2 linked regions of the Homo sapiens genome follow. The protein of the gene in region 2 purifies or fractionates together with the protein of the main gene of each other region. This does not show direct contact. Each region holds a gene or a part of one and is shown on either strand. Other genes may lie near its edges.

The links. Proteins that work in one complex are often made in the same cells at the same time.
Region 1: the proteins of ADIPOR2 (region 2) and TMEM33 purify together in Homo sapiens (affinity purification with mass spectrometry, with the first as the bait; one study listed by BioGRID). This does not show direct contact.

Annotation. Positions count from the first base shown.
Region 1 is NC_000004.12:41,948,915-41,952,428, reverse strand, and holds part of TMEM33 (transmembrane protein 33), read right to left. Parts: intron 3,128-3,514; coding exon 3,044-3,127; intron 1-3,043. UniProt on the Homo sapiens protein: Acts as a regulator of the tubular endoplasmic reticulum (ER) network by modulating intracellular calcium homeostasis. Mechanistically, stimulates PKD2 calcium-dependent activity. Suppresses the RTN3/4-induced formation of the ER tubules.
Region 2 is NC_000012.12:1,785,058-1,789,176, reverse strand, and holds the end of ADIPOR2 (adiponectin receptor protein 2), read right to left. Parts: intron 3,234-4,119; coding exon 3,105-3,233; 3' UTR 503-3,104; downstream 1-502. UniProt on the Homo sapiens protein: Receptor for ADIPOQ, an essential hormone secreted by adipocytes that regulates glucose and lipid metabolism. Required for normal body fat and glucose homeostasis.

The DNA of each region.
Region 1 (3,514 bases), on a different chromosome or scaffold from region 2:
ACAATTTTCACCTTATGTGCTGACTCATCCTGTATAAAGATGCAACTACTATTCTACCTTTTTGTGTCCTGTTTTACTTCTATGGTTAGAAAAAAAGCAACAAATCTACTTTTCTAAACAAGTATTTAATATGCTTGCACAGAAAGACAGGAATAATAATATTTGGAGTAATGCATAATTTTCCAAAACCTGCCCTTCCTGTATCTCCTGTCTTCGTGAGAGCACCATTACAACTCTTAGGCTTCCAAGCCAGAAACCTGTGGGTCTTTAATTTACTCTTTTCTCTCAAGCCCTAATATCCTATCTCCTAATACCTTTCATATTTGTCCCCTTTTCCTTTTACCACTGGATTAATTCAGGCTCTAGACTACTCTAATAGTCTCCAAATTGATATTTTTCTTCTCTTGCTGAGCTTGCAATCCATTTTCTGGAATATTTCTAAATCAGATTTCATCATGGGGGTTCCCAGCCTCTCTATGTTACAATCTTCAAAGGCTCTCCTTACCTCAAAATAAAATCCAAACCCTTTCATGATCTAGTCCTTTCTACCATCTACCTTTGTGGACACAGATATTTATCAATTCTCTATATACTTCCTGAGCTCAAGTATGCTAAGCACTTTTCAGGCACCCATGTGTCAGAACTCAGGCTCATTCTTTAAAAGACTTGGCTTATGTTCCCACCTCCTCAGTGAATTCTTATTTGTCTCTGTCTGTTCTCTATGCTTTCAGAGCACCTTCATCATCACACTGACTTACATAGCTGTCTAATTTATTCAGCAGTGAGTACCTCTGAAAGAAGATATTTTAATTCCACATAAGTTCATCAACATACAATCACTGTTTTAACCAATCAGTCAAATGAATAAAGCTAGAAGACATGAGGACTAATGAAGTCAATCGCTTTCACTAAAGTCACATAGTTCTTTTATTACTGGCTGCATCGCTGGCACAGACCAAGTCAGAGTTCCTTAACAGCACGGACAACAGAACTTTGAACAATGATAAAATTTTTGCATATCTGTGCTGAAGGACCAGTCAGAGAGTTCCTTAATAGCACTGACAACAGAACTTTGAGTAATGACAAAATTTTTGCATATGTGTGCTGACCCACAGTTGCCATCAGCAACACATGGCTTTTGAGTACCCACCTGAACTGTGCTCAAAAGGAACCAAGTTCTAAGTTTTATGAATTTTATTTAAAGGTCAAATGTGGTTGCTGTGCTGTACTGGACAGCACAGCTATAGACAATCTGCACTAGAGATCCAAAAACAACTGAAACCACCAACTTGAGAATAAATATCGTAGGTGAAAATGGTACAAATTGTGAATAGAGATGGTCTCAAAACCTTTAATTAAAAAAAGTGTAGTACTGAAAATGTAGTTTTATAGCCTGTTTATCAATATTTACAAGCTGAAATATTTTCCATTACCTTTCCACTGGTTTGGTTAAAATGGGTGCTTATAAGACAGCTTTGAAGATGTTTACCAGCACATATTTGTGTTATCTTGATTCACTGCTATCCTTTCCTTTTCAGTCCACTGAAAACTGAATTCTAGATGTACTAATATGATTTAAGGGTATGTGAAGAAAATGGGAATGGAGAAGGAGGCACAAAGAAGCACAGAAAAACAAATATGCTGATTAAAATAACAGATGTCAGGGCAAGAGAATATAAGATAATGTCTGAAATGAATATAGGGACCAGAAAGAAAAAAGGCTAAAACTCAAGAAATCAAGTAAAAATGAATGTTAATTTGCTACTAGAGACTCACTAAGAACGAATGTCTAAAATAAGTTCTATTTTAGAAAGTATTATAAAAAAGACATTGTCTAATAGAGCATAAAAACGCTCTGAACAGAAAATCAGATCATAGAATAATGAAAATGAACTAGTAAGAACATAACAGTCTAAGTACTTTTAAAATATTACTTCGCTTCACCCCCAGAAGGAGTTATTTCCTCTACCAATGAAGAAATCCAAATAAATAACCTGCCTAGTCACACAACTAGTTAATGATGGGCCAGCATTCAAATTCAAGTTCTTTTTACTGTACTTATGAAAATATACAGATTGCTGTAATGCACTCATTGGATTTCTAGCTGAATTCTACATTATTTTAAACTTAAAAATAGATTATCTTAATATTAGTATTTGAGTATCATTTTAGTTTTACTCCAATGCTTGAGATCAGAATGCATAATTTAGTGTATATTAATTTAAGCCTCCATTCCTGAAAACTACAGTAATTCCCTAAAATTTCTCTGCTTCCCCATTTTTCTGCTTCAAACTCTTCTGGCACAAGGGTATCAGAAGAATATTCTGACGATGTCAAAACCATCATTCCCATTCACCTAAAAGATAAATTCCAAACTTCTTACCCTAAAACTCAAGAAGTTTTATAATATAGCTCCAATATACCTTTCTAATCTTAGCTCCAGCAATTAGCCATTCAGAATCTCCATTAGAGTCAAAACAGCTCTACATAAAGTTCCTCAAATATGGCTTGTGCTTCTCGTCTCTCTTGCCCCACCTAAAATGCTTTTCCCTATTCAAAAGCTTTACTCCTCCCACAATCTCAATTTTGTGAAACCTTCCTGGGCTCATCTATCTTCTGGCCCAATGATCTCTCCCTTCTGTGGACTGCAGTACTGATATAATAAAGCAAACATATGGCATTCATTATCTATTGGCTTGTGAATTCTGTATCCTAACCATTGTTTATCTAATTGACACGTGTTTTGTTTCTTCAACTAGGAAAGTTGAGAGTGGAATCTATGTCTTATACATTTTAAAATTTGCTAAGTTTTAGCAGTGCTTTAGAGGTGGCGTAGATAACTGCAGTCTCAGTTTCTAAGAACAAATACAACCACTTCCTCACCAACCCCAGTACATTCTAAGGCCTAGAACTTAAATTTACAAAAACACTGCTTGCTTCTAAAGTCTAACACATTAGCTAAGTAACTCTTAAGAATTGCGAATACTATATATTCACAATACTCTCAACAAATAAAACATGCCTAAAATAATCATCAGCTTACCGACAATATGGGTTTCTTCGAGACGAATATCGAAGGGTAAGAAATCTATAGTATATAAAAGGTTGGAGCAAACTTCCTTGACCACTGAAATAAACAAATACAAGCGTGATAAATATACATTTCAATTCATGTGTATACTCTCAAAACTTAAAAGCAATTCAACTGGAGAATATGTGTATCTTCATTCATCAAATGGTCATAGTGAAATCTATCATGTCTAAATCCAAGTTATCCTTAAAAAAGGATATAAAAGAATGTACATGATTGGTAAAGAGTAAAATGTTGTTTAATTTTTTTATAAATGTATTCTTATCTGTATTACTTTTGAAATTTTTTAAAATACTAAATAAATCAGAAAATGTTAAATAATTCCGTAATTACTAATTGATGAAATCAAGTTGTAAAGCTTCATAAAATATGCAAATGAAAAGTGACTTATTTTATATATATAAAAAGAAACAAACACTCCCC
Region 2 (4,119 bases):
GCCTTGGCCTCCCAAAGTGCTGGGATTACAGGAGTGAGCCACCGTGCCCAAAAAAATAAATTTTGTAATGTTTCACTTAACAAAAGAGATACATTCTGAGAAATGTATCATTAAGTGATTTCATAATTAGTTGATTTCGTTGTCACGCAAACATCATAGAATGCACTTACACAAACCTAGATGGTACAGCCTACTACACACCCAGGCTTTATGGTAGAGCCTATTGCCCTTGGCATTAGAGACTATTTTTATAAACTTCAATAATAAATAAGAACTGCCCCTTAGAGCTGCTCTCCCCTCCATTCTAAACCTGGTGCAACTTACGAGGAAAGCTTGAGTTAGGAAACAGGAGTTGGGCATAAGCACTTTGATTTCTGCATCCCGAAGGGGAAGTTTCCAAAAATTTCTTAAATCACAGTGTCTAAATTAGAGCTTCAGAGAAGTGCCAAAAGCCAAGGGGAGGTAAGCTGAACGGCAATAAAAAAACACACGACAGGTCATATTTCATTTGGTTCTTTTTATTAGAAACTGAGAATACAGCAAGTAGGGAAATCCCACATCAATGGAACCATCACACAGATGCCTTTCTGGAACCCCAACCTTCTATGATCCCCAAAAATGTGCTTTGTGGCTTTAGCATAATTTATAAAGGGGAAGAGGGAAAATACTGAAAAAGGCCACTATTTAATGGTGAAAGAATGAAGCTGTAGAGGTCCCAACCAGCCTAGGGCCAAAAAAGAAAATTAAAAATCTGCACAGAGCAAGCAAGCCTCTGACTGCTGAGAGTAAGGCATTCAGGCGCCAACCTGGTGAGAGTTCTCAGCGAGCACTGTCAGGTCAAGTGCACATGAGGCTGTTGGTAGTGAGCTGCACGTAGACACACACATAGAAATGGGCACATGCCCACATACACACCCGAAAAAGGGAGATTTTACTGGATTACACATCAGTGATGTTAATTTCATTTTTCCTAAGGGTTTGTGCTATGTTGAACCAGATCCTTCCAGCTTTGGGGTGTGGGTGACTGCACCCAGAGGCTGCTACTTCTGTTGGTGTTGTGACAGGGCTGCACCTATACGCTGTATCCCAAAGTGCATGACCGAAGAGCAAGTCTGGCTTCTGATACGTGCTGTTGCTCCCAAGAAACTAAGTGGGCTTCTGTCCAAATGGCCACTGTCCTGCTGGACTATGCTTTCTCAAAGGGATTAATACTGTTCTTTATTCTGTCAGGCACTGCACCAGTTCATCCACTGAGTCTTTTGCTCGGTCCACCTAGCACCTAGGACAGTGACCTTATCCAGAACCAAAACGTTCAAGTTCTTCTCAACTTCTACACTGGATTCTTTCTTCCTAGATCCCACCTTTTGCTGGAGATTGCAAGGGCAAGGGAGGAAAATAACTGAGAAAACTCTATTGAATAAATAGGAGACCCTTCCCATATTCCCAAACACCTACTGAGGACGCCAGTCCCCATGCTCAGGACCTCCATATTTAGTTCTAATACCCACAACCCCAGGATATAATGGAGTCATCCCAAGTCTTTGATGACAGTAACCTAAGACTCGAGCACTATTTTGGTGGTTCACCTATGGGCCAAGATCAGAATTCCATGAACCAGATCCTTTCCCCACCACTTTCTCTGACACCGTATCAGGTAGGCCTGTGACATGAGCCATCGTCTTGTACCTCACTCCCTGGCAATAACATACCATTGTATTTAAAATGCCACACCACTCTTATCCCTGTAAAGTGAGGTTCAGTGAGTGCTGACAACTCCGTACTACAACTGGCTTTAAGAGTTCTGCTGGCTTTCTTATTCAAGGAGAGCCGAGGTGTCTGTCACATCCAGGCTTACCAAGACAGTGTACCAGAGGTAAAACTCATCTTTCCTAATCCAAAGGAAGGGTCTACCAATCTATGTAGATGAGCTCAGGAGAAACCTGGACACGTCAGAATCTCATTTGTGGCTGGCTCCCATGCCAAGAACTATGTCAGAGAAAGGTCCATTTCTATTCCCTCAAGGAGGAAGTGTAGTTAGGGCAGTGATTTTTAATAGAGGGAAATTTAGAGAGTGTTCCAGAGCTCCACAGCAAGGATATGGAAAACTGTCCCATCCCTCTAATAAGACTTCCCATAAAAGTGAGCGGGATGCCAGGAAGTAATCAGATCAGCCCATGCTAATGTTTCTAGAGCTCCTCCATGGCCTCCAGCACCCCTTTACCAGCTGCTAGGAGTGTGTCAGTCTCTCAAATGACAATGACACCCTAACTAGAGCCTTTATCTAACATCCTGTCACCCACTCATGTGCTGCTTCCACTGAGAAAACACATACCACTCCCCTCTACCTCAGGCCTCCCAAAGGGAGTGGTCATGTCACCACTGGGCTAGGGCTATACTCTCTGCCCCATTAGGGTCCAAGGTATGTCAGCCTTTAGAAGGCATCTTGGTGCACCAAGACACTGTACATTCCGGGGCTATCACCTGATCCTACAGTCACTTTTTGTGCAAAATTCAAACAGTGTGTGGTACTTGCATGTTTCATTCTATACAAAAATTCTCCCTCCCTCCCTTACCCCTATGTTTTAAACATTTATATAAAGTCTTATTTAAACAGTTAGAAATCTTATTTACATTAATTTCTTTGTTCTCCCAAAAGAGCATTTAAAATCACACTCCCACCCCTTATCGGATATAAATGTTCACTTAAATTGGTTTGTATTATTGTCATAGAGAGAGAGAAAGGGAGAAGAAAGAACCACCAGCTAAACTGTTTCGCCATCTTCTACAAATAAATATGATATGGATCAGAAGCCAGTTTGCCAAGGGTCTTGCAGAGCCCGCAATCAGTAGATCCCAAGAATAAGCCAGGGTTTGGGCTATGTCTCCTTTTCTCCCAATTGATGCACTCCATCCTTTGAGGTATGATTTATTTTTGTTTTTCTCTTCTCAGTCATGTACCACGCAGAGCCACTGGGCCGTCACAAAGCCCACGAGGCTGTCAAAGTTTTGGGGCTCCTCTGGTACTGGCATCAGTAGCCAGCAGGGAGGCCCGCAAGTGCCGCAGGCCCTGGTTTAGGGTCATAGTCCCTGGAGACTGGTAGGTATCACAGTGCATCCTCTTCACTGCAGCCCCCGCCGATCATGAAACGAAACTCCTGGAGGTTTGAGACACCATGGAAGTGAACAAAAGCTCCAGCAACCACAAAGATATGAAACAGCTGATGAGAGTGAAACTGGAGGGGAAAAAAGAAGAGAAGGGGGTAGAGAAACCCATACATTATTAAGACTGCTAAAGATTCTTAGGATCGTTTAATCCTGGTTTATGCTGAGCAGAAGGCAGGGAATGGATGTGACAGAGCTCAAATTCAAGGCGTCCACAGATCCTGGAACATCCATTAGGTGTAACACATTCTGCTGAGCTGAAAGCCAGCTGTTCCCAAAGAAACCAAGGTGCTGCCACTAAGCTCTACACATAAAAATCTACAAACTTAACACTGAAACCAGTGGCAAATGACACACAGACTCTCTTGCTAAAGTGGCAAATGACACACAGACTCTCTTGCTAACAGGCCACAAAGGTCCCAAGGATCCCTTGACACCTAGCCATGGGCTATGATTACACATACAGTCCTTTTCCTACTCACTGCTGATGGACATTTTGTCATGGACAAGAGGACTAGAGCTATGGTCATTTAAATGTTGCTCTCTGTTAGAAAAACTAAAGAGGCTTCCAGGATGGTGTGTGGAATGTCACAACATATGGTCCCCAGAGTTTCCTTCAGTGCTACGATTCTCAAATTTCATGAACTACATAATGTGTCAAAAACTAAGCAAACAGGCCCTTTTACTTCTCAAGTCAGAAGCTGGTCTACAAGCAAGTGACATTATTTCTGATTTTACCTGTTCTGTTGAATGCTATTCCACATCTCAAGAAGGGTAATCAATTGCTCGCTGCACTTCAAAAATTACACTATTCTGTCATTATAATCTCAAAATGAAAAAGTACAGTGGCAAAGCAGTATTTATCAAGAGAAAAACACTGATTTTAGAAGCAAAAACTAGAAGAAATCAAGTCACATCCCAAGAGATGTTTCCTAGGAAACCAAAGGGGATTAATTT